6 linked regions of the Homo sapiens genome follow. The protein of the gene in region 3 purifies or fractionates together with the protein of the main gene of each other region. This does not show direct contact. Each region holds a gene or a part of one and is shown on either strand. Other genes may lie near its edges.

Region 1 (4,607 bases), on a different chromosome or scaffold from region 3:
TCAATTTTTCTCAAAGCGCAGTATGTAACAAGTTTTAACCTGGCTGTTACCCCACTTGAATTTCTAGAGGTTGGCCTTTTGTTTTATCCATTCATTGGTTTCTCTTTTGTTTGATATCTGAGTGTTCCTCTCCAAAGTCGGCTCGTAGAACACATTCTCTGCACTGAAAGGGAAAGAAGAGAACTGTGCTAATTCCTCTGGCTTAATGAGTGCCCCCTTTTATCTTACGTTCATTAGTTACATTGGAGTAATAACTGGAGAACATGCCTCAGGATAAATGTTTGATTAAATTCTACAGTGTTAACCAATAGCATGTCTGGGAATTGGGGGTAGGAAGTTTCACAGAGTGAGCTTTTGAGAGTTTGTACTTATGTGTCTGTGTGATACATACATGTTTAAGAATAGGTGTTTGTGGCCAGGCATGGTGGCTCACGCCTGTAATCCCAGCACTTTGGGAGGCTGAGGCAAGTGGAACACCTGAGGTCAGGAGTTCAAGACCAGCCTGGCCAACATGGTGAAACCCCATCTCTACTAACAATACAAAAATTAGCCGGGCGTGGTGGCGGGCACCTGTAGTCCCAGCTACTCACGAAGCTGAGATAGGAGAATCCCTTGAACCCGGGAGGCAGAGGTTGCAGTGAGCCAAGATCACGCCATTGCACTCTAGCCTGGGCATTAAGAGGGAAAATCTGTCTCAAAAAAAAAAAAGGTGTTTGGGTTTTTCATTTTTATATCAAGTCAGAATCCAACCCTTCCACCCTCTTTTTTTTGAAGGACCCCTTCCTTCTCCTCAATCACCAGTGCCAACAGTGTTGATCTTCCTGCCTGTTTCTTCTTGAAATTTCCCCAGCCAATCCCAGTATCTAGAGCATTTGTTCAGAAACTGCAGAACTGCACAGGTGAGTTTTGAGCATCAGGATCTAGTACTTGTTATAAATGTGAAAAAGAAACTTCAAAGTCAGGTTATCATGACGTCTTTCAGTCTTACATGCCTCATTGAAGTATTACTGGTAAAGATGTTATAGTGCTTTGTACTAGTAAATGCTTAGTAAGTACTCTTTTGGGTGAATGAATGTAGATATCAAGGGGAAACTGAGCTGTCAGTGTTTTCATCTTAACATGATCATTATATTGATTCTTGTTTTTCCAGGAATTCCATTGTTTGAAACTCAACCAACTTATGCACCCCTGTATGAACTGATCACTCAGTTTGAGCTATCAAAGGACCCTGACCCCATACCTTTGAATCACAACATGAGATTTTATGCTGTAAGTAAAGCCCTAGGGAGCTAGAATGTTGTAGGTTATGTTTGGACCCAAGATCATAATCTTCCTTTATAGCATTATTGAGGTCAGATAAGTTTCTTCAAGACTGCTGGATCATGTCCTATTTCTTTAGTAAGGCAGGAAATTACAGAAATCTCAGAAATGGGCTGGGCGCGGTGGCTCACACCTGTAATCCCCGCACTTTAGGAGGCCAAGGCAGGCGGATCGTGAGGTCAGGAGTTCGAGACCAGCCTGGCCAACATAGGGAAACCCTGTCTCTACTAAAAATACAAAAAATTAGCCGTGTGTGGTGGCGGGTGCCTGTAATCCCAGCTACTCGGGAGGCTGAGGGAGGAGAATGGCTTGAATCTGGGAGGCAGAGGTTGCAGTGAGACAAGATTGTGCCATTGTGCTCCAGCCTGGGTGACAGAGCGAGACTCTGTCTCAAAAAAAAAAAAAAAAAAAAGAAATCTCGGAAATGTATTGAAGTAAAAGGGCATGAGCTTCCATTAGGAAACAACAATGTACAGTTCTTTGTTGAAATTTTGGGTGATTGGCCAGGTGCAGTGGCTCACACCTGTAATCCCAGGAATTTGGGAGGCCAAGGCGGGTGGTCACTAGAGATCAGGAGTTTGAGACCAGCCTGGATAACATGGTGAAACCCCGTCTCTACTAAAAATATAAAAATTAGCTGGGTGTGGTGGAACATGCCTGTAATCCCAGCTACTTGGGAGGCTGAGGCAGGAGAATCACTTAACCCGGGAGGCAGAGGTTGCAGTGAGCCAAGATTGCGCCACTGCACTCCAGCCTGGGCAACAAGAGCGAAATTCCGTCTCAAAAAAAAAAAAAAAAAAAAAAAACGAGGCTGGGCGTGGTGTTTCACATGTCTAATCCCAGCAGCACTTTGGGAGGCCGAGGCAGGTGGATCACGAGGTCAAGAGATCGAGAGCATCCTGGCCAACAGGGTGAAACCCCATCTCTACTAAAAAAATACAAAAATTAGCTGGGTGTGGTGTCATGCACCTGTAGTCCCAGCTACTCGGGAGGCTGAGGCAGGAGAATTGCTTGAACCCGGGAGACGAAGGTTGCAGTGAGCCAAGATCGCACCACTGCGCTTCAGCCTGGCAACAGAGCAAGACTCCGTCTCAAAAAAATAAAAAAGAAAAAGAAATTTTGGGTGATAGACTTTTTTTTTTTTTTTTGAGACGGAGTCTTGCTGTGTCGCCCAGGCTGGAGTGCAGTGGTGAGATCTCAGCTCACTGCAAACTCCACCTCCCGGGTTCATGCCATTCTCCTGCCTCAGCCTCCTGAGTAGCTGGGACTACAGGCGCCTGCCACCATGCCTGGCTAATTTTTTGTATTTTTAGTAGAGACGGGATTTCACCATGTTAGCCAGGATGGTCTCGATCTCCTGACCTCGTGATCCGCCCGCCTCGGCCTCCCAAAGTGCTAGGATTGCAGGCGTGAGCCACCTTGCCTGGCGGGGTGACAGACTCTTAATGGTATTTTGAACTTTTAGAATATCATAATTAGGTGTTATAAATTCTTACTGTTTAATTCTTTCAAGTGCCATGAGCTTAGAATCTGGAAAGATCCTGAAAGTACTTACAGAGAGGAAAATGCTGGAAGCAGTAATTAAGAGGCTGGGCACAGTGACTCACACCTGTAATCCCAGCACTTTGGGAGGCCAAGGCAAGGCAGATCACTTGAGCTCAGGAGTTCAATACCAGCCTGGGCAACGTGGCAAAATCCTCTCTTTTTTATTTTTTTATTTTTTGAGATGGAGTCTAGCTAGCTCTGTTGCCAGGCTGGAGTGCAGTGGCGCGATCTCGGCTCACTGCAACCTCCGCCTCCCAGGTTCAAGTGATTCTCCTGCCTCAGCCTCCTGAGTAGCTGGGACTGTAGGTGTGCACCACCATGCCCAGATAATTTTTGTATTTTTAGTAGAGACGGGGTTTTACCATGTTGGCCAGATTGGTCTTTATCTCTTGACCTTGAGATCCACCCTACTCCGCCTCCCAAAGTGCTGGGATTACAGGCGCAAGCCACCTTGCCTGTCCTTTTCTTTTCTTTTTTCTTTTTTTTTTTTTTGCTCTTGGTGCCCAGGCTGGAGTGCAGTGGCACGATCTCGGCTGACTGCAACCTCTGCCTCCCAGGTTCAAGCGATTCTTCTGCCTCATCCTCCGGCAAAATCCTGTCTCTACAAAAAAAAAATACAAAAATTAGGCTGATGTGGCCGGGAGCGGTGGCTCACGCCTGTAATCCTAGCACTTTGGGAGGCCGAGGCGGGCAGATCATGAGGTCAGGAGATCGAGACCATCCTGGCCAACATGGTGAAACCCCGTCACTACTAAAAAACACAAAAAATTAGCTGGGTGTGGTGGCGGGCGCCTGTAGTCCCAGCTACTTGGGAGGCTGAGGCAGGAGAATGGCGTGAACCCGGGAGGTGGAGCTTGCAGCGAGCAGAGATCGTGCCACTGCACTCCAGCCTGAGCTACAAGAGCAAGACTCTGTCTCAAAAAAAAAAAAAAAAAAAAATAGGCACATGTGGTTGTTCATGCCTGTAGTCTCAGCTGCTCGGGAAGCTGAGGGGCTTCATCCTGGGAGGTAGAGATTGCAATGAGCCAAGATTGCACAATTGTACTCCATCCTGGGTAATGGGAGTGAAACCCTGTCTCAAAAGTAATAATAATAATAATAAGGGAACGTTCCAAAACCTCATCTGGACTTGTATTTATCTGAATCTTTTACAATAGACTAAAGTAGTGGTTACCAAATTCTGGCTGCATTATTATTATATAGGTGTTTTATTAAAAATAGAGAATTTGCAGCCGGGCGTGGTTGTTTATTCCTGTAATCCCAGCACTTTGGGAGGCCCAGGTGGGTGGATCACGAAGTCAGGAGATGGAGACAATCCTGGCTAACACAGTGAAACACTGTCTCTACTAAAAATACAAAAAAAATTAGCCGGGCGTGGTGGCGGGTGCCTATAGTCGCAGCTACTCAGGAGGCTGAGGCAGGAGAATGGCATGAACTCGGGAGGCGGAGCTTGCAGTGAGCCGAGATCGCACCACTGCACTCCAGCCTGGGCAACAGAGGGAGACTCTGTCTCAAAAAAAAAAAAAAAAAAAAGAGATTTTGCATTTATGGTTTAGGAACCTCTTTAATACAGATTTCTGAGGTAGTTTTTATGTTAGCTAGGTTAGGAAATCACTAGCATAGTGCATTTACTAAAAAGACATCTTTTCAGCCTAATTAGTAATTGATTGACATTTATAATATCAGCTGATGAAAACATTCACTGTGGAGACTTTTCTGCACTTTTTTGAGTAGTAGGTTTT
Region 2 (4,607 bases), on a different chromosome or scaffold from region 3:
ATATTACCCTTGGGAAATAAAAAGCCATGCTTCATAAATCTTCACAAGGTATCTAAAAAAAAAAAAAAAAAAGCCACACAGGGCTCCTATGGCCACTGAGACAAAAAAAAAAAAAAAAAAAAAAGCCACAGAGGCATTCAGGGACACATTCCAACAGGGGTGTCCCCACGTCTGCCTCCTGCAGCGGGTTTCCCTCCCTCTCCCCAGGCCAGGCTCCGCCCACAGGGTGAAAGCCATTCCAGCCATGGCTGGCTAAGATCCTGATAGTTCAGCATCCCCAGTGGGGACGGAAAAGGACTGTGGAGTCTTTGGACTTATCTCTCAAGCCAAACGTGTCACGTGTCCCCAGCCCCCCTCCCCGAGCACACTCACTGTCGGAGAAGCTGCCGCCCCTCCTTCCACACCAACGGGCTGTTCTCCAGGGTGACCGATTCCACGGGGCCATTGGAGACTGGCGGGTGAGAGAACGGAGGCTGTCTTAAGTCAGGCCACTGCCACCTACCCATCACCTCCTCCATCTTCCTCACCCCTCCAACCCAAATCGGTCACTGTCGCAGGTCCTGTGGCATCACTTCCTGAGTGTTGGAACCCTGCTCTCTTCCCTTACTCGGGGATTCCTCCTCCTTGAAGCGTTCCTCATCTCTAGGTCTCCTGACTGGTGGTTCCCCAAACTGGCCCCCGACAAGATAAGGGTGTTATCTCAAAACCAGAAAGCTGGCCTGGTTCTGAGAGAAGGGCCGACTGGGTTCAAGCCCAGCTCTGCCCCATCCCAGCTGTGTGACCCTGAGTTAGTGTAAGCCGTGTCAGTTTCGTCCTCTGAGAAATGAGCTTAATGATAACAGCATCTCCCTCTTGGGAGTGCTGAGAGGATGCAATGAGATAATTTGCTTAGTATTTTATTCAAGTCTTTCCTGGGCATCTACGCTGTGCCTGGCCAGGGGCCTGGGCTACATGGGTAAACAAAGACCTGCCCTTGTGGAACTTCCGTTCTAGTGAGAGGAGCTGGCAGCAGGTAATGACCATCACTATCAGCTGAGCACACAAGGTCTTCTCAGCTTGCCTCGGCCAAGCTTCCCCCTCACCCAGCCCGCCCTCCCACATCCTCTGCCCTACACTGTTTGCCCAGGCACACTGACCGACTCCCTGTCCCCTAACCCTTTCAGCGTGCGTCTCTGTATCTGTGCTCTCTCCCCTGACTCTCCTGCTGGGGAACGGAGTCATCTTTCAAGGAGCTTAGACTCTAAGGGACCAGAGGGTAGAGACCATGTCTCCCGTGCTCTCTGCTGTATTCCTGATCTGTGATACAAAGCCTGTACCCTACAAATAAAGTCTTTTTTGGATGAACGATTGAACGGCAACCCTGTTCAAACGCCACCTCCTCAGTGACGTCTTCCCCGGCTTTCCCGCACCGTCCCCAGCACTCTATAAATAGCCCTGGCGCCCACTCCTCGCAAAGGGATCCCGTGAGCTGCTCGTGTGTCTGCCTCTGTTGCACAGGGGGACCCAAGCGGGACTGGCCCCCAGGGTCCAGCACGGGACCTGGCAGCCCATAGGGAGGGCTCTGAGAGTGAGATTCCGCCCCTCCCCAGCCCCGGGGCCGATTCTGCCTTCTAAGGAGCAAAGTGAGAAAGAGGCACCCCATCTTCCTGCTTCTCCAGAACACTCAGCTTCTGCGGGAGGGTGCCGACAGTGCGAGCATCAGAGGGTGGGTACCTTGTTCTGACACATCTGCTTTCTTCTCCCCCTGGTTCAGGTCTGTCCCAAACTTCAGTTTATGATATTTGGCCCTAAAAGAGCAAATGATTAATGAATAAGAGATGCGGGAGAGTAGACAGGGTCAGTAGTTACCTAAGGAATCCAGAATCCCAAACCCCAAATCACAGGGCCTCCCCCAGCTCGTCTACTACTGAGGCTGAAGCATCCCCCCACACCCCTGGCCTGGTGGAAGAAACCACTCCCTGGAGTCAGGCAACCTAGGTTGCTCTCAGGGGTCCTTGAGGAAACCATCAGCCCTTGAAACCCCAGTTCCTTATCTGAAACAGGGCTAACAATACCCGTTAGGCTATTGGAAGGTATAAGGGATAACGGAGGTAAGGACTATACGATATTTGGCGCACAGTGGGCCACTAGCATCGTGAATATCGTTCCTGGTGTCTAACCCAAATCCCACCTACTCTGTCCTGTTTCTCCCCTAGAATCTTATGGTACTGGAATGATGGAAAAGAATGTCGACCCCAAATCTCCCTTAGCTGGAAGGAGGCGTGGCTGGTGGCCTCCTGACACTGTGCTTGAGACGGACCCAGAAGGCAGGCCCAGGGCAGGATGAAGGCTCACCTTTCCTGCTTCAGCGCATACTCTAGCATCTTGATCCGCCGCACCAGGTCCGTCTTTAGATTCTCCTGCCCTTTCCTCTCTCCCTGAAGGAAGGCCACCTGAGCCTGGGAGGGCAGACAGGAGGCAAAGGGAGATAATGGGGCTCAGGCTCAATGCCGGTGTGTCTATCACTCACCCAGGTATAGTGCCAGCCCACAGTCACCCCACAGTAATGGGCAGCAGCCACTTCCTCAGGCACAAAGATCCCAAGCCAGGGTTCAGGGAGCACTGAGAGGACAGGATGGATCTGTTTCCAGGGCCCCCTGCCACGTCACCCACAACGAGGGCCGAAGGGGAGCCCTTAACCCCTGAGATAACAATGGGGCCAGCCTGGGCCTCACCTGGTGGCTGCCTTTGGGGGGAAGTCGGGTCAGGGATGGCAGTGGAGAGGAGGGTGGGCATTCACCGCCCTGGACTACCCCTGACGCCCTCTGGCAGGTGCTGTCCCTAAGGCTGCTGGTGGAGGTGGCGTCCCACTATTCTTACCAGAGCATCTGTCTCTGGGAGGCGTGGGAAGCTACTTCTGGAGCTTAGGGACAAGAGTGGGTGGCTCGGCTCGGCTCCTGCTCCAATAGAAAAGCTTTACAAGCCAAGCCCGCTGTGGGGACCAGCCGTCCCACTGCATTCCGCCCAGGGTGTGAGAGAAATGTGCCACAGACACGACCCCGGGTTCCTGCCAAGCACTTCACACCGTCTGCTGGCTTGAGCTGCCCCGTCTGCTCCAGTCTGTCAACAGGTCATTTGGAGACACTGGGCCCACTGCCTTCCAGGCAGGATCCTGGCCCCTGACCATGGTCCAGAAGCTCTTCTGCCAAAGCCCTGGCCCAAGGCTCATCTCTGGCTTCTCCCCAAGCACCCCACCGTTCCAGCCCAGAACAGCCAGAGCCCAGGCCCAACTTAGACACTTACTCGCTACATGATCTTACGCAGGTCATCAGCCTTCTCTGAGCCTCCATTTGCCCCTCTAGAAAATGAGAGTCACAAGAGTGCCCTCCCCTCATGTGCTAGGTTCTGCTCAGTCAAGGCCTGGCACAGAATAAAGGCTAACAAATGCCAGCTTCTACTTCTTTCATCATTTTTATTCTCCCTGTCCATTGTTCGCAACTTCGAAATGGGCCCAGTTCCTTACGGGAGGTAGGATCCCTTGGAGACCCCAGATCAACTAGAAATGTCTGTGGATTGGCCAGGCACAGTGGCTCACGCCTGTAATCCCAGCCCTTTGGGAGGCTGAGGTGGGCAGATGACTTGAGGTCAGGAGTTCAAGACCAGCCTGGCCAACATGGTGAAACCCCATCTCTACTAAAAATACAAAAAACTTAGCCAGGCATGGTGGTACACACCTGTAGTCCCAGCTACTCGGGAGGCTGAGGCAGGAGAATCGCTTGAACCTGGGAAGTGGAGATTGCAGTGGGCCAAGATCGTGCCACTGCACTCCAGCCTGGGCGACAGAGCCAGACTTCGTCTCAAAAAAAAAAAGAAATACATGTCACCAGTTACCTTATAGAAAAGAAAACTCATCTGTCCGCTTCAAGAATGGGAAATTTTTTTCCTTTTTAACACTTTTTACCAACACATATGTATATAAACATCCAAGGCCAGACAGGGAAACTACTTATATGACATCAGCATCTCTGAAGCATGAGTTTCTGTCCTTTGTGTATCTTCTCAGTCCCCCAAATCTACTCTCTGAATCACTGGAGAAGGTGTGAGGAGAGGCAGACCGACCACCGAAGACAAGTCCTGACTTTCCTCCTCACTCTCCTCCCTTCCCTCCTGGGGTTTGGTGATTGATCCCTCAACCTCCCAGGGGCAGTTCAGCCTGCCGGGAACCTACACCTTGGTCAATACCTGCCACTGTTTGGTGACTGCCCACACACATCAGGTGCCCCAGTAAGGCGCTGGGGAATAACAGAGGAGCCATGTGGTTCCTGCACCCACAGGGCTCAGTCCCATGCAGGAGACAGGCATGAGCAGCAACTCACATGCAATGTGACTAGGACCCCATTGCGGGAGCGAAGGACGCTATGGGAAGAGGGACAAGAGGCGACAATTCAGCTAAGGCCTGAAGCTGAAGAGAAGTTAGCCAGGGGAGGGAAGGGCCCTGCTGGCAGAGGACGGAGACAAGAGCTGCATGGTGGGCTTAAGGAACTCTAAAAAAGGCCAGGATGGCTGCTTCAGAACCTGTAAAAGGCTCAGTGAAGCCATGGAAGGGTTTTAAGTACAGAGAGGTAACC
Region 3 (5,152 bases):
CCCACATATTAGGCAACCTTTACCTCCAACCCCACTGACAGCCACACACCTGCCCATCAGGGAGTGAGGTTGAGAATATCAAAATATATATTTGCAACAGAAAATGATAGAGATAAATAGCAATTGCATTGGGGTTACAAGGGTAGGAATGATGGATTCTGCCTGGGAGAGGGAACTAGTCTGAGAACATAACTATTGACCAGGGTATTTCAAGTATTCACTATGTGTCAGGCTTTAACACTATACACACAGCCTCATCTGATCCTCAGAGGAGTCCCATAGGGTAGGTACCTACAGCAAACAGGCTTCAGGGGGGCCCAGGAGACCAGGGGTCCCCATGATCCCTGCCTCCTGGTATTCATAACCTTGAGTAAGGATAGGACCTACCCCTGACCAATGGAATATGGCAAAGGTGACACACGTACGTGATTCCATGTATGGATCACATTATATGAGACTGTGATGTCCCTTGTCTTCCTGGCCCACTCCATTCCCACCCCAAGTGTTGGTTCCTTGGAAAAACACTGGGGATGGAGGTGGAATTGCTGTGAAAACAAGACTCAGTCCTCCACAGAAGCTGCCCAGGGAGTTCTTCAAAAGTGGTTATCCTACCTGCCATTTACACTGGATCAGGACTGTCCAGAAATCATTTTCACATCTCCCCAGCAGAATGGCATCATCTCAATACTAATCTTCACTTGAACTAGAAGAATCATGCTTGTGGTTTTCAAAAGGAAAAGGTTCCTATTCATGGTGCATTTAGAAGCAGCCCAGGGTGCTTATAGAACGGACCTGCTTCTTGCTATGTTCTTGAGCTTCTGAGGCCTCTTGACAAAGTCGAGCAAGTAAGACGACCAGGCCAAGTGGGCACTCTGGGCCCCATGGCCAAGGATGGGCTGGCCAGGTGGCCACGTGGCCTCCGGTGGCCTTGTTTCTGTGGGCTTTATCTGATCCTGAGCTCAGATGCTGATAGTGCACTGGCTTATTTTCTAAGGAGAGGGAGCTTGATTTGTGCAGGATGCGCCTTCACCAGATACCTCCAGGGGCAAGAGTCCACTGAGGTTACAGCGCCCCCCGCCCCCCATGCCTCTAAGCTCTAAGCTCAGAGAAGGGTCCCTGACACAGAGTCCTGTTAAAGGAATGGCCACAGGGATAGGAGAGACCAGGGTCGTGCATGCCAGCTCAGGATCTGGGGCAGGATGGTTGGCAGGGGGTCGTGGGGAGCAAAGGAGGGGAATCACCTGACAGAAAATTGGGCAGGGGTGCTCAGGGAGGAGGCTGCGGAGGGACTGGGACCAGTGGAAGGGAGGTGGAATAGGTCTTAGGAGCCAAATTCCTTGCAGAGGCCTGGGGTGAAGCCTGGGCAGCTCTATCCCCGGGAGCCGCCCTTTTGCCTCCAGCAGCTGCCGGTCCAGCCACAGCCCCTCCAGGAGACCCAGGCCGGGTTCCTAACTCCGCTGCTCTTTGGCCTCGTCCCTGCCTAGCCCCTGCTGCAGGTTGCTTTTTTCCCCCCTCCTCCTCCTCCCTCCTCCCTCCTCCCTCCTCCCCCTTCCTCCTCCTCCCCCTCCTCCCCCGACTGGCCCCGCCCCCACTGCCGGCCCCGCCCCCACTGCCGGCCCGGGCCCCACCCACGCCGGAGCTGCTCCATTTAAGGAGATTGCGCAGCTGGAAAGCTACACGTGTGAGCCTAGAGGCGGGTCCCGGTTGCAGACTTGCCATGGCCTCCGAAGCTTCTGTGCGTCTAGGGGTGCCCCCTGGCCGTCTGTGGATCCAGAGGCCTGGCATCTACGAAGATGAGGAGGGGAGAACCTGGGTGACTGTGGTCGTGCGGTTCAATCCCTCGCGTAGGGAATGGGCCAGGGCCTCCCAGGGCAGCAGAGTGAGTCCTGGGCACGAGGGGAGGCTGTGGGGAGGGCTGCGCACTGACCCCTGCCCGTGTGGGACCGCGGTGGGGGTCAGAGGGGGCCGTTCTCACCCGCACTGGAAAACTCACTTCTGTGCAGGTCTAGGAGCGCAGCAATGTCCATGCCCAGCCCTGGCCCCAGGAACACCCCCCGTAAAGGGACCACAGGCACAAGCTTATCCACATGAGATAATGTGGTCCTGCGTGGTGAAGCCGAGGCTAAGGTAGCTCAGGGCTTAGTGCCATTCCCAGTGCCTGCTGGGAAGGCCCACAAATGGGGCAGCTATTGAGCTGGGCTTTGTGGGATGAGTAGGAGTTCTCCAGGTCTAGAAAGGAGGCAGGAGTAGTATAAGCAAAAGCATTGCAGCCTGGAGGCACCAGGTGGGCCAACAGGATGAACATGACATTGGTGTCAGATTACTGATCTGCAAAATGAGAATAATATACCTCTGTGGCAAGCTAGTCACAGACATGCTCACATACATGGCTCACCGCCTGAATGGCCTGGGGAAGCATTTGACTGATAACAGATTCTGGAAATTAATTCAGGAGGCTTGGGTGGAGTCCTAGATTCTTTACTTTTCAAAAGCTCCCCAGGTGATAATGATAATGACTCAGGAAACGGCTGTAGATGAGGGCTTTAGATCACAGCCAGTCTTTGAGGGATGAAGTAAATACAGTAGCGTTTCTGGTGTGGGTGGCGGTGGGGAATTGATTCCAGGACCGACTGTGGATGCTCAAGTCCCTGATAGAAAATGACCTGGGTAGTAATTACATATAACCTCAGCGCATCCTCTACTATATTTGAAATCAGATTACTAATAACACCTAATGCTACACCTACACATCACTTCAAGCTCTGCTTTTGGGAACTTTGTGGAATTTCTTTTTTTCCCAAAATATTTTTAATCTGAGGTTAGTCGAATTCATGGGTGCAGTATCCATGGAAATGGGGGGCTGGCTGTACCTTAGTGTAATGTGGTAAAAGCATATCCGGATATTTAAAATGCCATTTAGGGCTGGGCGCGGTGGCTCACGCCTGTAATCCCAGCACTTTGGGAGGCCGAGATGGGCTTATCACGAGATCAGGAGATCGAGACCATCCTAGCCAACATGGGGAAACCCCGTCTCTACTAAAAATACAAAAAATTAGCCGGGCGTGGTGGTGGACGCCTGTAGTCCCAGCTACTCGGGAGGCTGAGGCAGGAGAATGGCGTGAACCCGGGAGGCGAAGCTTGTAGTGAGCCGAGATCGCACCACTGCACTCCAGCCTGGGTGACAGAGTGAGACTCCGTCCCAAAAAAAAAAAAAAAAAATGCCGTTTAGGTCTTCGTAAACAATTCACTGCCTGTTTGTTTGTTTTTTGAGAAAGTCTTGCTCTGTTGCGGCTGGAGTGCACTGGTGTGATGTTGGCTCACTGCAACCTCCACCTCCCAGGCTCAAGTGATTCTCATGCCTCAGCCTCCCGAGTAGCTTGGATTACAGGCGATTTTTTTTTACAGTTAATTTTTTTTGTTATTTTCAGGAGAGACAAAGTTTAATCATGTGGGCCAGGCTGGTTTTGAACTCCTGACCTCAAGTGATCTGCCCACCTTGGCCTCCCAAAGTGCTGGGATTACAGGTGAGCCACCTCGCCCAGCCAGTTCACTGACACTTTAAACAATATAACACATTTCCTAAAAAAAGTTCAAATAGGTTATTTCAAAAAATGTTGGTAGAGAACATGGAAAGGCTTTTCTGTACATACACTAAATAAAGCATGCAAAAATTGTGGAGCAAATATTTTAAGTTTTTCAAAAGCCTGAAAAAGTGTTAATGGAGGGCACTGTAAAATGGTGCAGCCACTATGGAAAACAGGATGAGGATTTCTCAAAGAAAGAATTACGGCATAATCCAGCAATGCCGCTTCTGGATATATACCCACAAGACTCTGAAGCCGGAACTTAAGCATGTATTCATACATCCATGTTCACAGCAGTATCATTCATACTAGCCAAAAGGTGGTGGCAGCCCCAGTGTCCATTGATAGATGAATGGGTAAACAACACAAACCATGAAGTATTCACCCTTAAAAGTCAGACACACGGATGAAACTTGGAGCCATTATACTAAATGAAATATGCCAGTCACGGAAGGACAGATTCTCTTGTATGAGGTACTCAGAGTGGTCTCATTCATAAAGTGGAATGGTAGCTGCCAGGGGCTGGAGGGAGTCGAGGATGGGAAGTTAATGTTAGTAACAGGTACGGAGTCTCAGTTTGGGAAGATAAAAAGTTCTGGAGGTGGATAGTGCCGACGGTTCCACATGTCAATGCACTTAATGCCACCAAACTGTACTCTTAAAAACAGTTGGCCGGGTGCGGTGGCTCACGCCTGTAATCCCAGCACTTTGGGGGGCCGAGGCGGGCGGATCACAAGGTCAGGAGATCGAGACCATCCTGGCTAACACGGTGAAACCCCGTCTCTACTAAAAATACAAAAAAATTAGCCGGGTGCGGTGGCAGGCGTCTGTAGTCCCAGCTACTCGGGGGGCTGAGGCAGGAGAATGGCTTGAACCTGGGAGGCAGAGCTTGCAGTGAGCTGAGATCCAGCCACTGCACTCCAGCCTGGGCGACAGAGCAAGACTCCGTCTCAAACAAAACAAAGCAAAACAAAAAAAACAGTTAAGATTTTTTTTTTTTTTAAATGATTCAGTGGAAATAGAATGGATTCTTCAAATAACTTAGCCACGGGTGGGATAAGGGACCTACTTAGTAAGTATTTTTTCCCCTTCTTTCTTAAAAATAGATCGATGTCTTAGGGTGGGAATTAGGCTTCCTGGGCGACACATCTAATGCAAAGATCAGCCACCTTTTTCTGTAAAGGATCTGATGGTAAACATTTTCCACTTGGAGAGCTATGCTCTTGCAGCTACTCAGCTCTGCTATTGCAGTGCAAAAGCAGCTAAAGGCAACGGTAAAGGAATGAGGGAAGGAGCCTTAGTTTATTTACAATAAAGCTTTATTTGCAAAAGCAGATGCAAGCCAGACTTAGTTTGCTGATCTCTGATCTACAGTCAGAATACACAGAGAAGGAGAGATTTTGCCGTATAATTTAAAATACTTCTCTTTGCAAAAGCAGTCCATAAAAAAAGTGAGGACGACAAACTGAGAAAAATTATTCACAACATGTCTGATTGATAGAGCACTAATATTCTTAATTCAAAAAGACATTTTATCACAAAAGAAGACAAATACTTAGAAAATTGTG
Region 4 (4,607 bases), on a different chromosome or scaffold from region 3:
CCAGGCTGGTCTTGAATTCCCGACCTCAAGTGATCCACCCGCTTCAGCCTCCCAAAGTGCTGGAATTACAGGCATGAACCACCATGACCGGCCAGGATTTTTTTTTTTTTAAGTAAGTAGGCAGTACTCATAATTACCCTTCAGAAAAGTTAACTCAGTAATACTAGAACATTGACTATATTTTTAAAAATGAACTGAATCCCCTATTTGAAGACAAGGATCCACTTTTTTTTTTTTTTTTTTTTTTTTTGAAACAGTCTTGCTCTGTCGCGCAGGCTGGAGTGCAGTGGCATGATCTCAGCTCACTATAAACTCCACCTCCCAGATTCAAGCGATTCTCCTGCCTCAGCCTCCTGAGTAGCTGGGATTTATCAGCACAAACCACCACGCCCACCTAGTTTTTGTATTTTTAGTAGAGATGGGGTTTCACCATGTTGGTCAGGCTGGTCTCGAACTCCTGACCTCGTGATCCATCCACCTCAGCCTCCCAAAGTGGTGGGATTACAGGCGTGAGCCACCACGTCCAGCCCACTTTTATATTTTATAGCCTTTCTCTTAAATGTAATCACTTTCATAAGAAATAAAATTAGGATTTTATTCTCCAATGTTTTTTTAAAGAAAACAACTTCTTTCTTTTCCCAGATGAGTAAAGTTCTTGTGATTCCAGTAAATATCACATTAAAAAACCACTTAGTTCCCAAAGACTTGTCCTTTATCCCAGACCTCCATTTTGTAAATGTGAATAAAAACTCCACAATTGGAAATGGAAATATGTCAAATAGAAAGCATCACTAATTCATAGTCAAATCACAAAATAAACTTTTAGTATTAGATGCTGAGGGCACAGAAAAGTCCTGCGATAATAGCACAACTAAAGGAAGGCTTGGCTGAATATCTCTGTCATGGAAACAAAAAAGACAGATGGAAGAGCATACTTAACAGCTTCTTGTTTTTACGTAATTCAGAAAAGCAGTAAGTGGAGTTCACATTGCTTGGCCTCTAATAGCTGATAGTATGTTCAGAGTAATTGTCAATAGGTGATTCCTATCCACATTTCCCCAGACAGCTCCTCTGTTTTCCCTTTTCACTTTGCCAGTATGGAACCTACCCTGTGCAAGGTATTGTGGTAGATGTTGGGAACTCAAAGGTGTAAAGAAAGCTAGCCACATTTGTGCAGTGATAAAACAAGTAATTCCCCAGACCGGCTGGTGACTTCTGCACTGACTCTTGACGAGCAGGGCTTCACATGCCACATGTAGGTGAGGATCGCTTTTAGATGTTCTCAAAATATGGACCCCAATCCAAACCTGTCTAACAGTAAGGAGAGTCTGGACATACAGATGTTAAAACACAGTGGAGATGATCCTGGACTCCTACATGAAGACTACACAGAACATTATATTGGACTGGGGATTGTTTCTTCCTTAAATACCAGGTTCTTTTAGGGAACATTGGCAGGGCTTTCATTCCTTGTATTGAATATTCTCAAGTCGTGATATTCCCAGTGGTTTTGTTTGCTGTTATGGCTGAGACACACACACACACACACACACACACAACACTCTCACTCTCTCTCTCTCTCACTCACTCATGCCCACACTCTCCCTGTCTTCTTCTTGTTGATTTTTTTTTTTTTTTTTTTTTTTTTTTTTTGCTAGGAGGTTCAGTTCATTGGCTACTTAATATCTATCTCCAGTTTGGTCAATTGTTGATACATCTTTTGACATTTCTGGTTTTCTTGCATTTGATATTTACTCCTTTGCTCGATTTTCTCCACTTTATTCTTGTTCTTTCTCATGTCTTTTGCTTTCCTGAATCTCAGTTGAATTCCTGACAGGGTTTGACTTAAAAAAATCATTATTGTGGTGAGACCTCTCAATATAAGATCTATCCTCTTATTTTTAAGAATACAATACAGTACTGTTAACTGTAGTATAATGTTGTGCAGCAACTCTCTGTAGTTTATTCGTTTTGCTTAACTGAAACTTGATGGCTGTTGAGCAGCAGTTCACCGCCATTCTACTCTGTGTCTATGAGATTGGCTATTTAAACTCCTCATATAAGTGGAACCAGGCAGGATTTGTCCTTCTGTGACTGGCTTATTTCACTTAGCATAATATTCTCGAGGTTAATATATGTTGTTGCATATGGCAGGATTTTCTCCTTTTAGACTGAATATTCCTTTATATGTCTATATATATCACATTTTCTTTATCTGCTCATCCGTTGATGGACAGTGAGGTTGTTTCCACATTTTTTTTTTTTTTTTTTGAGATGGAATCTGGCTCTGTCGCCCAGGCTGGAGTGCAGTGGCACGATCTCAGCTCACTGCAAGCTCCGCCTCCCGAGTTCATGCCATTCTCCTGCCTCAGACTCCCGAATAGCTAGGACTACAGGCACCCGCCACCATGCCCAGCTAATTTTTTTGTATTTTTTTTAGTAGAGACGGGGTTTCACCATGTTAGCCAAGATGGTCTCGATCTCCTGACCTTGTGACCTGCCTGCCTCAGCCTCCCAAAGTGCTGGGATTACAGGCGTGAGCCACCGCTCCAGGCCTCCACATTTTTGCTATTGTGAATAACACTGTAGTGAATATGGGAGTGCTAATATCTCTTTGAGATCCTGATTTCAATTATTTTGTATAAATACCCAGAAGTGGGATTGCTAGATCATGTGGTACTTCTAGTTTTAATCTTTTGAGGCATTTTCATACTGATTTCCATAGTGGATGCACCATTTTACATTCCTACCAACAGTGTATAAGGATTTTTTCTCCGTATCCTCACCACCACTTGTTACCTTTTTTTTTCTTTTATACAACCTACAAATTGGGAGAAAATTTTTGCAACCTACTCATCTGACAAAGGGCTAATATCCAGAATCTACAATGAACTCAAACAAATTTACAAGAAAAAAACAACCCCATCAAAAAGTGGGCGAAGGACATGAACAGACACTTCTCAAAAGAAGACATTTATGCAGCCAAAAAACACATGAAAAAATGCTCACCATCACTGGCCATCAGAGAAATGCAAATCAAAACCACAGTGAGATACCATCTTACACCAGTTAGAATGGCAATCATTAAAAAGTCAGGAAACAACAGGTGCTGGAGAGGATGTGGAGAAAGAGGAACACTTTTACACTGTTGGTGGGACTGTAAACTATTTCAACCATTGTGAAAGTCAGTGTGGTGATTCCTCAGGGATCTAGAACTAGAAATACCATTTGACCCAGCCATCCCATTACTGGGTATATACCCAAAGGACTACAAATCATGCTGCTATAAAGACACATGCACAGGTATGTTTATTGTGGCACTATTCACAATAGCAAAGACTTGGAACCAACCCAAATGTCCAACAACGATAGACTGGATTAAGAAAATGTGGCACATATACACCATGGAATACTATGCAGCCATAAGAAATGATGAGTTCATGTCCTTTGTAGAGACATGGATGAAATTGGAAATCATCATTCTCAGTAAACTATCGCAAGGACAAAAAACGAAACACCACATGTTCTGACTCATAGGTGGGAATTGAACAATGAGAACACATGGACACAGGAAGGGGAATAACATCACACTCTAGGGACTGTTGTGGGGTGGGGGGAGGGGAGAGGCATAACATTAGGAGATATACCTAATGCTAAATAACGAGTTAATGGGTGCAGCACACCAGCATGGCACATGTATACATATGTAACTAACCTGCACATTGTGCACATGTACCCTAAAACTTAAAGTATAATAATAATAATAATAAAAATGAATAAGAAAAAAAATAATAATGGCCAACTTAACAGTTATGAGGTGATATCTCACTGTGGTTTTGATTTGCATTTCCCTGATGGTTAGTGGTGATAATCGTCTTTTCATATATCTATTAGCACATTTGTGTATCTTTTTTAGAGAAATGTGTATTCAAGTTCTCTGTGCATTTTTTCATTGGACTATTTGAGTGTGTTTGTTTGCTTTGAGTCATAGGAGTTACTTATGTATTTCGCATATTCACCCCATACCAGGTATATGGTTTGCAAATATCTCCTCCCATTCTATAGGTTGCCTTTTCAGTCTGTTGACTGAAAGTTTCCTTAGCGCAGACACTTTTTAGTTGAATGTAGTCCCACGTATTTGTTTTTGCTTTTTTTTTTTGTTGCCTATGTCATATCCAAGAAATCATTGCTAAGATCAATGTCAGGGAGCTTTTCCCCTATTTTCCTTCTAAGAGTTTTATAGTTTAAGGTCTTATAGTTAAGTCTTTAATCCATTTTGAGTTGACTTTTGTATATAGTGTAAGAGATAAGGTCCAGTGTCACTCCTCTGCATGTGAATATCCAGTTTTCCCAACACCATCTGTTGAAGAGACTGTTCTCTTTCCCCGTTGTGTATTCTTGGTGCCCTTTTTGAAGATCAGTTGACCATATACGTGTGAGTTTATTTCTGGGCTCTCTGTTCTATCCTAGGAATTAACATTTATTTCCCTTGTTATCCACACCATTTAGTGAGCCCATCATTCTTTTCATCTGTTTGTATTTTTGTGGGTGATAGAGAACTACTGCGATTTAAAACCTCCTAGATAGTTGAAGACACCAGATAGTTG
Region 5 (4,607 bases), on a different chromosome or scaffold from region 3:
AGCCTCGCTTTTGAGTATTATAATCAGCATTTAATTAGTCTCTTTGCCTTTATGCTTATTTTATCTTGTGAATGTTATTTGGCTAATTTTTCTTTGTTCTCCATTCTTCTCAAATTGAGCCCAAACTTAGGCCTTTACTCAGGGATCTCTGCAGACCATTTTCAGATTGTCTGCCTGAATAACCCAACACAAAGCCCACAGAGGGTCCTCTTGCTGCAGGTGCTGTTGGGTGGGCGGAGTCCTCCAGGCTGGCAGACCCTCCAGCCCCTCCACTAGAAGTGCCCACAGAAATGCTGCACAGAGCCCTGTGAACCAGAGCCTCTCCTGTACCCCCAGGGACCCACCTGGTTCTGGGAGTGCTCTGGCTGGGACAGCCCTGCTTGGAGTTGGAACCCATAGCACTTTCATCTCTTCTAGTGTCTTTCCCGCAGTTGAATGAAAAATTAAACTACACATTTATGTTATTTTTAAAGAATGAGGAAAGGGAGGCTGGGCACGGTGGCTCACACCTGTAATCCCAGCACTTTGGGAGGCCGAGGCGGGTGGATCACGAGGTCAGGAGATCGAGACCATCCTGGCCAACACGGTGAAACCCTGTCTCTGCTAAAAATACAAAAATTAGCTGGATGTGGTGGTGCACGCCTGTAATCCCAGCTACTAGGGAGGCTGAGGCAGGAGAATCGCTTGAACCCGGGAGGCGGAGGTTGCAGTGAGCCACGATCGCACCATTGCACTCCAGCCTGGCGACAGAGCGAGACTCCATCTCAAAAAAAAAAAAAAGAATGAGGAAAGGGAAAAGAAATCCCATTTTCATGCCTATAAGAAATATTATAAATCCCAACTTTGAGACTTTCTTGATATATATAGATGCTACATTTTAAAAATGCATCATAAAGGAGTAATGAAATGGGGTCTGTTAGATTGGGGAAAATTATTATTTTTTCCTTCAAACTTAACAAATTTGAATCTGAGTTTGGAATGAAGTAGCTCAGCCTAGGCCTTCTGAATTACAGTTGTTGCTGCCTTGCGTGATGGTTTTGGCTCACTTTGTAAGAGTAATCTGTCGACATTGGGTACTTTAAAAACATTTTTTAAATTCAATGTTTTAATTCTTTACAAGGTCTAAGGCTGCTAGGTAGGTAGAGGGGAGCCGTCCTTGCCACCACAGATGGGGCTCAAGTGATGAGCACGCTGTCTGGCCCCTCCAGCTTGGCCTGGCCGCTTCAGCAGGTCAGCAAGACCTCAGAGCCCCAGCCAGACCTCTTTTGTGGGAACAGGGTGTTATTGACTGTCTTCTTCCCACTCAAGTATCTATTTTAATCTGCCCTGGCCTTCCATGCCAGCTGAGACCCGTTCCCGGGTTGTGCAGGAAGCGGCCCCCGCTAAGTGCCCACACTGGCTTCCCGGGGATAGTCCGCATGCAGTTACTGCAGGCCTCTGCCGTTCACTTTCTTCTCCCTCAGCCACACCCCAGGGAGCAGGATGAGCAGCCACAGATAGGGGGTGTTCATAGACTGCTCAGATGAGGTGTTTCCAGTCTGCCTAAAAGCCTCTTCACTCCTCTGCCATGTCATTTCCATCCACTCAGTATGACTTATAACCAGAAGGTGGGCCCCAGCAGAGGCAAGCCCCACGAAGGCAGGCCTTCGCGAGTCAGCACTTCCTTAGTGGGCGTGAGAAATGCCAGGCAAGCATTTACGTGGGTCCTGGGAAGGGTGGGAAGCTTTGCCTAGGAAGGCTGGAAGCACTTGTGGTGGCACTGGGGGGGTCTCCTTCACAGTTTGAATTTGCCTGAAAGGTGTTATCTGTGGGTAGGAGGCCATCTGGAATTATTTTATTTTATTTTTTATTTTTGAAATGGAGTCTCACTCTGTCGCCCAGGCTGGAGTACAGTGGCGTGTCTTGGCTCACTGCAATCTCTGGCTCCCAGGTTCACTTGAATCACTTGATTTCCGTGCCTCAGCCTCCCAAGTAGCTGGGACTACAGGCACACGCCACCATGCCTTTGTAAAAAACAAAACAAAAAAAAATTGTATTTTTAGTAGAGACAGGGTTTCGTCTCTGTCTACAGGCACACGCCACCACGCCTTTGTAAAAATACAAAAAAAAATTTTTTTTTTGTATTTTTAGTAGAGACGGGGCTGGCCTCAAGTGATCTGCTGACTTCAGCCTCCCAAAGTGCTGGGATTACAGGCGTGAGCCACCGGCCGCCATCTGGGATTTTTAAGCAGCATAGTGACCTGCTCAGACTTGGGTTTCTAAAGGTAGGTGGGGCAGAAGTGTTTCAGAAGAGGGGAGGACCTGGGTCCACAGGAAGGCAGTGGCAATGGGAGGTGGCTGGTCTAGAGGAGATGGAGCTGGCAGGATGGTGGCTGGAAGAAGGGGGCACACAGGTGCAAGCCTGGGGGTCCTAGCGTGGCCAGTAGAGTGTGTAGGTGGGACTGCACCCTCCCCCCGTCCCCTGCTGACAGCAAGTCTATGCTGGATATTTGCCATCTGCCAGACTCCAGGCAGGAATGACTTGGTAACTGTGGAGGGAGGAAACTCAAGTACAGGAAGGAAGGCTGACTGGGGAGGTGGTCCCCGTGTCGAGGGTTCGGGAGTGGATGAACACGTTCTGGGCATTTTGTAGTGCAGTGATTTTCATACTCCGTTTAGCAGCAGCACCTTTTGTCACTCTTTGCTAAAAAGAATATTTTTTACATGTAATGCTGTTAGCAGATGAAAGCAAGGGTGTGAGTTCAAGGCCTCCCTCTCCGGAAGGCCTCATAGGTCTTGGCAGAACTGGAGCAGAGAAACACAGTTGATAGGTAAGTAGTAGCCAGTATCATCCAGGGCGGGATGGAGAAGTGTGTCCTCCGTGGCTACAGATAATCTACATCAGTACAGTTTTTTTTTTGGAGGGCATTTTGGTAATATCTGTCAAAAATTTAAATATATATAACCTTTGACCCAGAATCCCTACTTTTAGAAAATGATCTTACCAAAATACTTGCACAAGTGAGAGGTGACAGCGTGCTGGCAGTCCTCAGAGCCCTCACTTGCTCTCGGCACCTCCTCTGCCTGGGCTCCCACTTTGGCAGCACTTGAGGAGCCCTTCAGCCCACCACTGCACTGTGGGAGCCCCTTTCTGGGCTGGCCAAGGCTGGAGCCCACTCTCTCAGCTTGCAGGGAGGTGTGGAGGGAGAGGCGCGAGCGGGAACCAGGGCTGCGTGCGGCGCTTGCGGGCCAGCTGGAGTTCCGGCTGGGCGTGGGCTTGGCAAGCCCCGCACTCGGAGCAGCCGGCCAGCTCTGCTGGCCCCGTGCAATGAGGGACTTAGCACCCGGGCCAGCAGCTGCGGAGGGTGTACTGGGTCCCCCAGCAGTGCCAGCCCACCGGCGCTAAGCTCGATTTCTCGCCAGGCCTTAGCTGCCTTCCCGCGCAGCAGGGCTCGGGACCTGCAGCCCGCCATGCCTGAGCCTCCCACCCACTCCATGGGCTCCTGTGCGGCCCCAGCCTCCCTGACGAGCACCACCCCCTGCTCCAGGGCGCCCAGTCCCATCAGCCACCCAAGGGCTGAGGAAAGCAAGCGTACGTGCAGGACTGGTAGGCAGCTCCACCTGCAGCCCCGGTGCGGGATCCACTAGGTGAAGCCAGCGGGGCTCCTGAGTCTGGTGGGGACGTGGAGAGTCTTTATGTCTAGCTCAGGGATTGTAAATACACCAGTCAGCACCCTGTGTTTAGCTCAAGGTTTGTGAGTGCACCAATCTACACTCTGTATCTAGCTGCTCTGGTGGGGACGTGGAGAACCTTTATGTCTAGCTCAGGGATTGTAAATACACCAATCGGCACTCTGTATCTAGCTCAAGGTTTGTAAACACACCAATCAGCACCCTGTGTTTAGCTCAAGGTTTGTGAATGCACCAATCGACACTCTGTATCTAGCTGCTCTGGTGGGGCCTTGGAGAACCTGTGTGTCCAAACTGTATCTAACTAATCTGATGGGGACGGGGAGAACCTTTGTATCTAGCTCAGGGATTGTAAATGCACCAATCAGCGCCGTGACAAAACAGGCCACTCGGCTCTACCAATCAGCAGGATGTGGGTGGGGCCAGATAAGAGAATAAAAGCAGGCTGCCGGAGCCAGCAGTGGCAACCCGCTTGGGTCCCCTTCCATGCTGTGGAAGCTTTGTTCTTTCACTCTTTGCAATAAATCTTGCCACTGCTCACTCTTTGGGTCCACGCTGCTTTTATGAGCTGTAACACTCACCGCGAAGATCTGCAGCTTCACTCCTGAGCCCAGCGAGACCACGAGCCCACCGGGAGGAACGAACAACTCCAGACATGCTGCCTTAAGAGCTGTAACGCACACCGCGAAGGTCTGCAGCTTCCCTCCTGAGCCAGCGAGACCACGAACCCACCAGAAGGAAGAAACTCCGAACACATCTGAACATCAGAAGGGACAGACTTCAGACGCGCCACCTTAAGAGCTGTAACACTCACTGTGAGGGTCCGTGGCCTCATTCTTGAAGTCAGTGAGACCAAGAACCCACCAATTCCGGACACACAAGTACATAAGGGTATAAGTACAAGATGTTCACTGTCATTCTAGTACAGTACAACCACC
Region 6 (4,607 bases), on a different chromosome or scaffold from region 3:
TCCCTCCACCACCCTTGACCGTCTGGAGCGCTGGGTGGGGGCTAGAATCAGCTGAGCCATCCCCAGCGGCACATCTCTGGGAGTCAGCGGTTCCGGGGGCCCCTCACCTGGTGCAGGCCTTGCATTCCTCCGTGGGGCAAGCGCCAAGGTGCAGCCTCCGCAGGTGGTCGATCTTGGGCTGGCCTGGGGCCCTGGCGGGAGAGGGGAGAACGTGAGGGAGGCCTGGGCACCACGAGGCCAGGTTCCGGCAGGGGCATCTGTCCACAGGCGGGGGTGGAGGGAATGGCCGGCCTCACACCATCTGCCAGGTGGGCCCAGATGTCTGTGAACAGTGAGGTGGGAGGTGCGGGACCACCTGAGACAGGCCCAGTAAAGGGGGCGGGACCCCCCACACGGAGGAGGGTTGGTCTCCCAGGTGCCTGGGGAGCTTGAGGCTTAGAGACCCAGTAAAGGGGACGGGGCCCACACAGGGACGAGGGTCGGTCCGCCACGTGCCCGGGGAGCCTGAGGTGCAGGGAAGGTGCTTGTGACGCTCCCATTTGAGGCTGGACAGAAGCAGGTACATGGGGACTTCCACACCACCTCTGCCCAGACACCCGGCCTGGAGGTGCCGGGACCTCTGAACGACAAGATTCTGGTGGCAAAAGCTGCCCTCGGTGGTGGGTGGGGGACCTGGGTCTGGGTGGGGGTGGGCCGGCTTATTCTGCTCTCATTAAATATCTGAAATTTTCCCAGTTTACAAGCCTCTGACGTAACCGTCCTCTCTTTCCATCAAGTCTTTTCCTGAAACCCAAACCCTCGTGTGTGACTCATTAGGAGGCCCCTCCCACAGTGAGCACGAGGAAGAAAATGCTGGAGGTCCTAGAGCCAAGCCAGGGCGCCTTCCCGGAGGTCCCGGAGCCAAGCCGGGGGTGCCTTCCCTGGAGGTCCTGGAGCCGAGCCGGGGCCTTCCCCGGAGCAGGGCTGCTGGAGGTTCACTTCATTTTCTTCCTTTTGCTCATCTGTGTTTTCTAAAATTCCAGCCCTGAGCAATCAGTGGCTCAGAGGGTTTGCATGTGCTCCTTGTCAAACGTGTGTCTGAAACAGGCTGGGGGTCTGACGGGCCTGGGTTCAAATCCTGACTCGGCCACTTCCTGACCGCGTGACCCCAGATGAGTGGGGTGACAAGGTCCCACCCTTTCCAGGCTGGGTTTCCTCACCGTGAAATGGGGTGACAAGGTCCCACCTCACAGGGCTGCTGGGCAGCCAGGGTCAGCTCAGCACACTTGGGTTGCCCAAACCCCGCACATTCCAGAGAAAGGCCAGCCCCGGGCCCTGCAAGGTGACCTCTTGCCCCCGGGAGATCCTCCTGATGAGGTGTCTGCTCAGCAGGGCCCTGGGCCATATGCTAAGGCGTCTCTCTCCATCCACAGAGGGATCTACGGCGAGGCCTGACATCCAGGGGGGCCAGAGACTAAGGGCAGAGGCTAAGGCAGGGCGCCCTGTACAGCGAGGCCAACACACAATCAGGAAACACCAAGGCAAGGCCGGGGCGGTGGCTCACACCTGTAATCCCAGCACTTTGGGAGGGCGAGGCAGGTGGATCACCTGAGGTCAGGAGTTCAAGACCAGCCTGGCCAACATTGCAAAACCGCCTCTATACCAAAAATACAAAAAATACCTAGGTGTGGTGGCTCATGCCTGTAATCCCAGCTACTGGGAAGGCTGAGGTAGGAGAATCATTTGAACCCGAGAGGCAGACGTTGCAGTGGGCCAAGACGGCACTACTGCACTCCAGCCTGGGCAACAGAGTGAGACCCTGTCGGGGAGACAAAAAAAAAAAAAAAAAGGGAGAGGGTGAATGGAAGGGCTGGGTGCCCGTGTTGGGGGTGGTTCGTGACACAGCAGAAGACACCACTAGGGGATGGAGTTAGGGGCACCTAGAAGGAAGCAGCAGTCATGGCCATGACTGGAGAACATGGAGGGAAGGAGCCGTATGGATTCGGGGGGGTCCTGGGGCAGGACATGGAGGGAGGGAGCCGTGTGGATTCGGGGGGACCCGGGGCAGGACATGGAGGGAGGGAGCCGTGTGGATTCGGGGGGTCCCGGGGCAGGACATGGAGGGAGGGAGCCGTGTGGATTCGGGGGGTCCCGGGCAGGACATGGAGGCGGGGAGCCGTGTGGATTCGGGGGGACCTGGGGCAGGACATGCAGGGAGGGAGCCGTGTGGATTCGGGGGTCCCGGGGCAGGACACGGAGGAAGGAGTCCTGTGTTTGGGGACCAATGCAGGGACACACGCACCTGGCGAGGCCGTCGAGCTGCAGGGTGGCAGCACTGCCAGGCAGCGTGGGCGCCCGGCCAAACTGCAGACGAAGGGGCTGCTTGGGCTGCAGGCGGCTAACCAGGCCGTCGCTGGCTGGCAGCCAGTCCAGGCTGGGGATAAGCAGCTGGCTGGGCAGCAGGCAGCATTCATCCACCAGCGCCTCGTCCGGCTCGCTCGCTGGGCCCTCATCGCGACCTGCGGAGAGAGGTGGCGGAAGTCTCAGCACCCCTGACTGGGGCACCGCCCGGCCACCCGGGACGTGCTGGGAGCCCCTCCAGTTCAGGAGCACCAGGTCAGGGCCCCAGCTCTGTCTGCCTGGCTGGGTGACCCCGGGGTTCTCTCACCAGGTCGGGGCCCCGGCTCTGCCTGCCTGGCTGGGTGACCCCAGAGTTCTCTCCCCGTCTCTGGCCTGTCATGAGACTCCCTCATTCACTTAAAAAGTATGTGGGAAGCACTGTGCCTTTTCCAGACACTGGGATGTAAGAATGACACAGCTCACCCTCCTCACATACACACAACCCGACAAGGAGAGACAGCAAACAGGTGCCTGGAAGTGGCTGCCATCCCAAAAGCACCCACACAGAGCATGGACCTGTGCTAGGAACTGGGGAAATAGCAGATATCAAGGCAGAGCCACTGCCACCTGCAGGGGCTTATGTTCTGGCGGGGGGCTCAGGCAGGACTTGTGTTTTGGTAGGGAGAGGGGAGCGGGGAGAGGGGAGAGGGGAGAGCGGGGAGAAGGGAGAGCGGGGAGAGGGGAGAGCGGGGAGAGGGGAGAGCGGGGAGAGGGGAGAGCGGGGAGCGGGGAGCGGGGAGAGGGGAGAGCGGGGAGCGGGGAGAGGGGAGGGGCGGGCGGGGGTGCCTCACAGCAGATCCAGAGCTTGGTGAGCAGGCGGAAGAGCAGGGACATGCTGTCCTGGGTATCCGAGGTGGCCGTATACACGGGCAGGCAGCTGGGCTTCAGAAGGCCCCAGATGCGGATGACCACCATCAATTCCCGAAGCATGCCCAGCGAGGTGCCGTCCCGCAGAAAGCTGTGGCCCGGCCTCAGCAGGGAACCCTGCCCGAAAGAGGCATCGGTGTGGCTGGGGCGGCGGGGGGCAGATGGCGATGGGATGAAGTGTCTTGGGGTCGGTGGAACCCCGACCGGGGGGCAATGGGCAGGGTCTGGGACATTTGTGGTGGTCAGGACTGGGGTGCTTCTGGCACCGAGTGGGTGGATGCCGGGGACGCTGCTCAGAGCCCTGCAGGGCCCAGGACAGCCCCATTTGCAGAGTCGTCCCATCCCTGAGAGTCCACAAGACTAAGACGAGGCTCTGGCTGAGGCCAATATCCCCACCTGCACGTGGAGGAGCAGCCGCCCCCTCCTACAGCTGCGGGCCCGGGCCCCTGGTGACTGTACTGGGAGCTGAGAGGACCAGGGAAGGGAGGCCCCAGGGGTGGCCCCTGGCAGCCTAAAGCCCCACAAAAAGAAGAGAGGGACTTCAAACCGTCCGTGATGGGCGCGGTGGAGAAGGGCGGGCCCCAGGGCAGGATGAAGCCGGGTGGGTGGGGCAGAAGAAATCACAGCTGGGGCAGGACAGAGTGTACCGGCGGGGGGGTGGGGGCGAGGTTGGAGCCCTGGTCAGGGGCGCACAAGCCGCAGAACTGAAGGTGGAGGTGTGGATGGAGACTTGATTTCAAGGCCGCCCACCCCAGGCGCAGGGAGCTGGGGAGGGTAAGGGGTGGGGGCAGCAGCAGCAGAAGCAAGGCGAACCGGCCTTCGTGTAGGGGTGGGGCTGAGAAGGAGCAGGGCCTGGGAGGCGGGGCTTTGAGAATGGGCAGGAAGGGTGTGGCCAAGGAAAGGCTTCTTACAGCAGAGGCTTCATGGAGAGGAGGGCTCCGAGGTGGGGGAGGGCTCCGAGGTGGGGCAGGGCTCCGAGGTGGGGGAGGGCTCCGAGGTGGGGGAGGGCTCCGAGGTGGGGCAGGGCTCCGAGGTGGGGCAGGGCTCCGAGGTGGGGCAGGGCTCCGAGGTGGGGGAGGGCTCCGAGGTGGGGGAGGGCTCCGAGGTGGGGCAGGGCTCCGAGATGGGGCAGGGCTCCGAGGTGGGGCAGGGCTAGGAAGTGGGGCAGGGCTAGGAAGTGGGGCAGGGCTAGGAAGTGGGGGTTTAAGAAGAGACAGACTCAGGAAGTGGGACTCCAAGTAGGGGTGGGACTCCAACCAGGGGCGGGGCTGAGGTGGGACTCCAAGCAGGGGCGGGACTCCAAGTAGGGGCGGGACTCCAAGTAGGGGCGGGACTCCAACTAGGGGCGGGGCTGAGGTGGT

Evidence for each region.
Region 1: the proteins of TCL1B (region 3) and MED1 purify together in Homo sapiens (affinity purification with mass spectrometry; 3 studies listed by BioGRID and IntAct, with this or other methods). This does not show direct contact.
Region 2: the proteins of TCL1B (region 3) and STRN4 purify together in Homo sapiens (affinity purification with mass spectrometry, with the first as the bait; one large-scale study listed by BioGRID). This does not show direct contact.
Region 4: the proteins of TCL1B (region 3) and CCDC6 purify together in Homo sapiens (affinity purification with mass spectrometry; 2 studies listed by BioGRID and IntAct, with this or other methods). This does not show direct contact.
Region 5: the proteins of TCL1B (region 3) and MED9 purify together in Homo sapiens (affinity purification with mass spectrometry; one large-scale study listed by BioGRID and IntAct). This does not show direct contact.
Region 6: the proteins of TCL1B (region 3) and MED16 purify together in Homo sapiens (affinity purification with mass spectrometry, with the first as the bait; one large-scale study listed by BioGRID). This does not show direct contact.

Annotation. Positions count from the first base shown.
Region 1 is NC_000017.11:39,419,989-39,424,595, reverse strand, and holds part of MED1 (mediator of RNA polymerase II transcription subunit 1), read left to right. Parts: intron 1-774; coding exon 775-899; intron 900-1,150; coding exon 1,151-1,269; intron 1,270-4,607. UniProt on the Homo sapiens protein: Component of the Mediator complex, a coactivator involved in the regulated transcription of nearly all RNA polymerase II-dependent genes.
Region 2 is NC_000019.10:46,736,451-46,741,057, forward strand, and holds part of STRN4 (striatin-4), read right to left. Parts: intron 2,937-4,607; exon of another isoform or gene 2,860-2,936; intron 2,439-2,859; coding exon 2,335-2,438; intron 1,788-2,334; coding exon 1,714-1,787; intron 452-1,713; coding exon 373-451; intron 53-372; coding exon of another isoform or gene 8-52; intron 1-7. UniProt on the Homo sapiens protein: Calmodulin-binding scaffolding protein which is the center of the striatin-interacting phosphatase and kinase (STRIPAK) complexes.
Region 3 is NC_000014.9:95,684,751-95,689,902, forward strand, and holds the start of TCL1B (T-cell leukemia/lymphoma protein 1B), read left to right. Parts: upstream 1-1,675; 5' UTR 1,676-1,717; coding exon 1,718-1,879; intron 1,880-5,152. UniProt on the Homo sapiens protein: Enhances the phosphorylation and activation of AKT1 and AKT2.
Region 4 is NC_000010.11:59,794,635-59,799,241, reverse strand, and holds part of CCDC6 (coiled-coil domain-containing protein 6), read left to right. Parts: intron 1-4,607.
Region 5 is NC_000017.11:17,483,170-17,487,776, forward strand, and holds part of MED9 (mediator of RNA polymerase II transcription subunit 9), read left to right. Parts: intron 1-4,607.
Region 6 is NC_000019.10:868,756-873,362, forward strand, and holds part of MED16 (mediator of RNA polymerase II transcription subunit 16), read right to left. Parts: intron 3,364-4,607; coding exon 3,171-3,363; intron 2,499-3,170; coding exon 2,282-2,498; intron 192-2,281; coding exon 108-191; intron 1-107. UniProt on the Homo sapiens protein: Component of the Mediator complex, a coactivator involved in the regulated transcription of nearly all RNA polymerase II-dependent genes.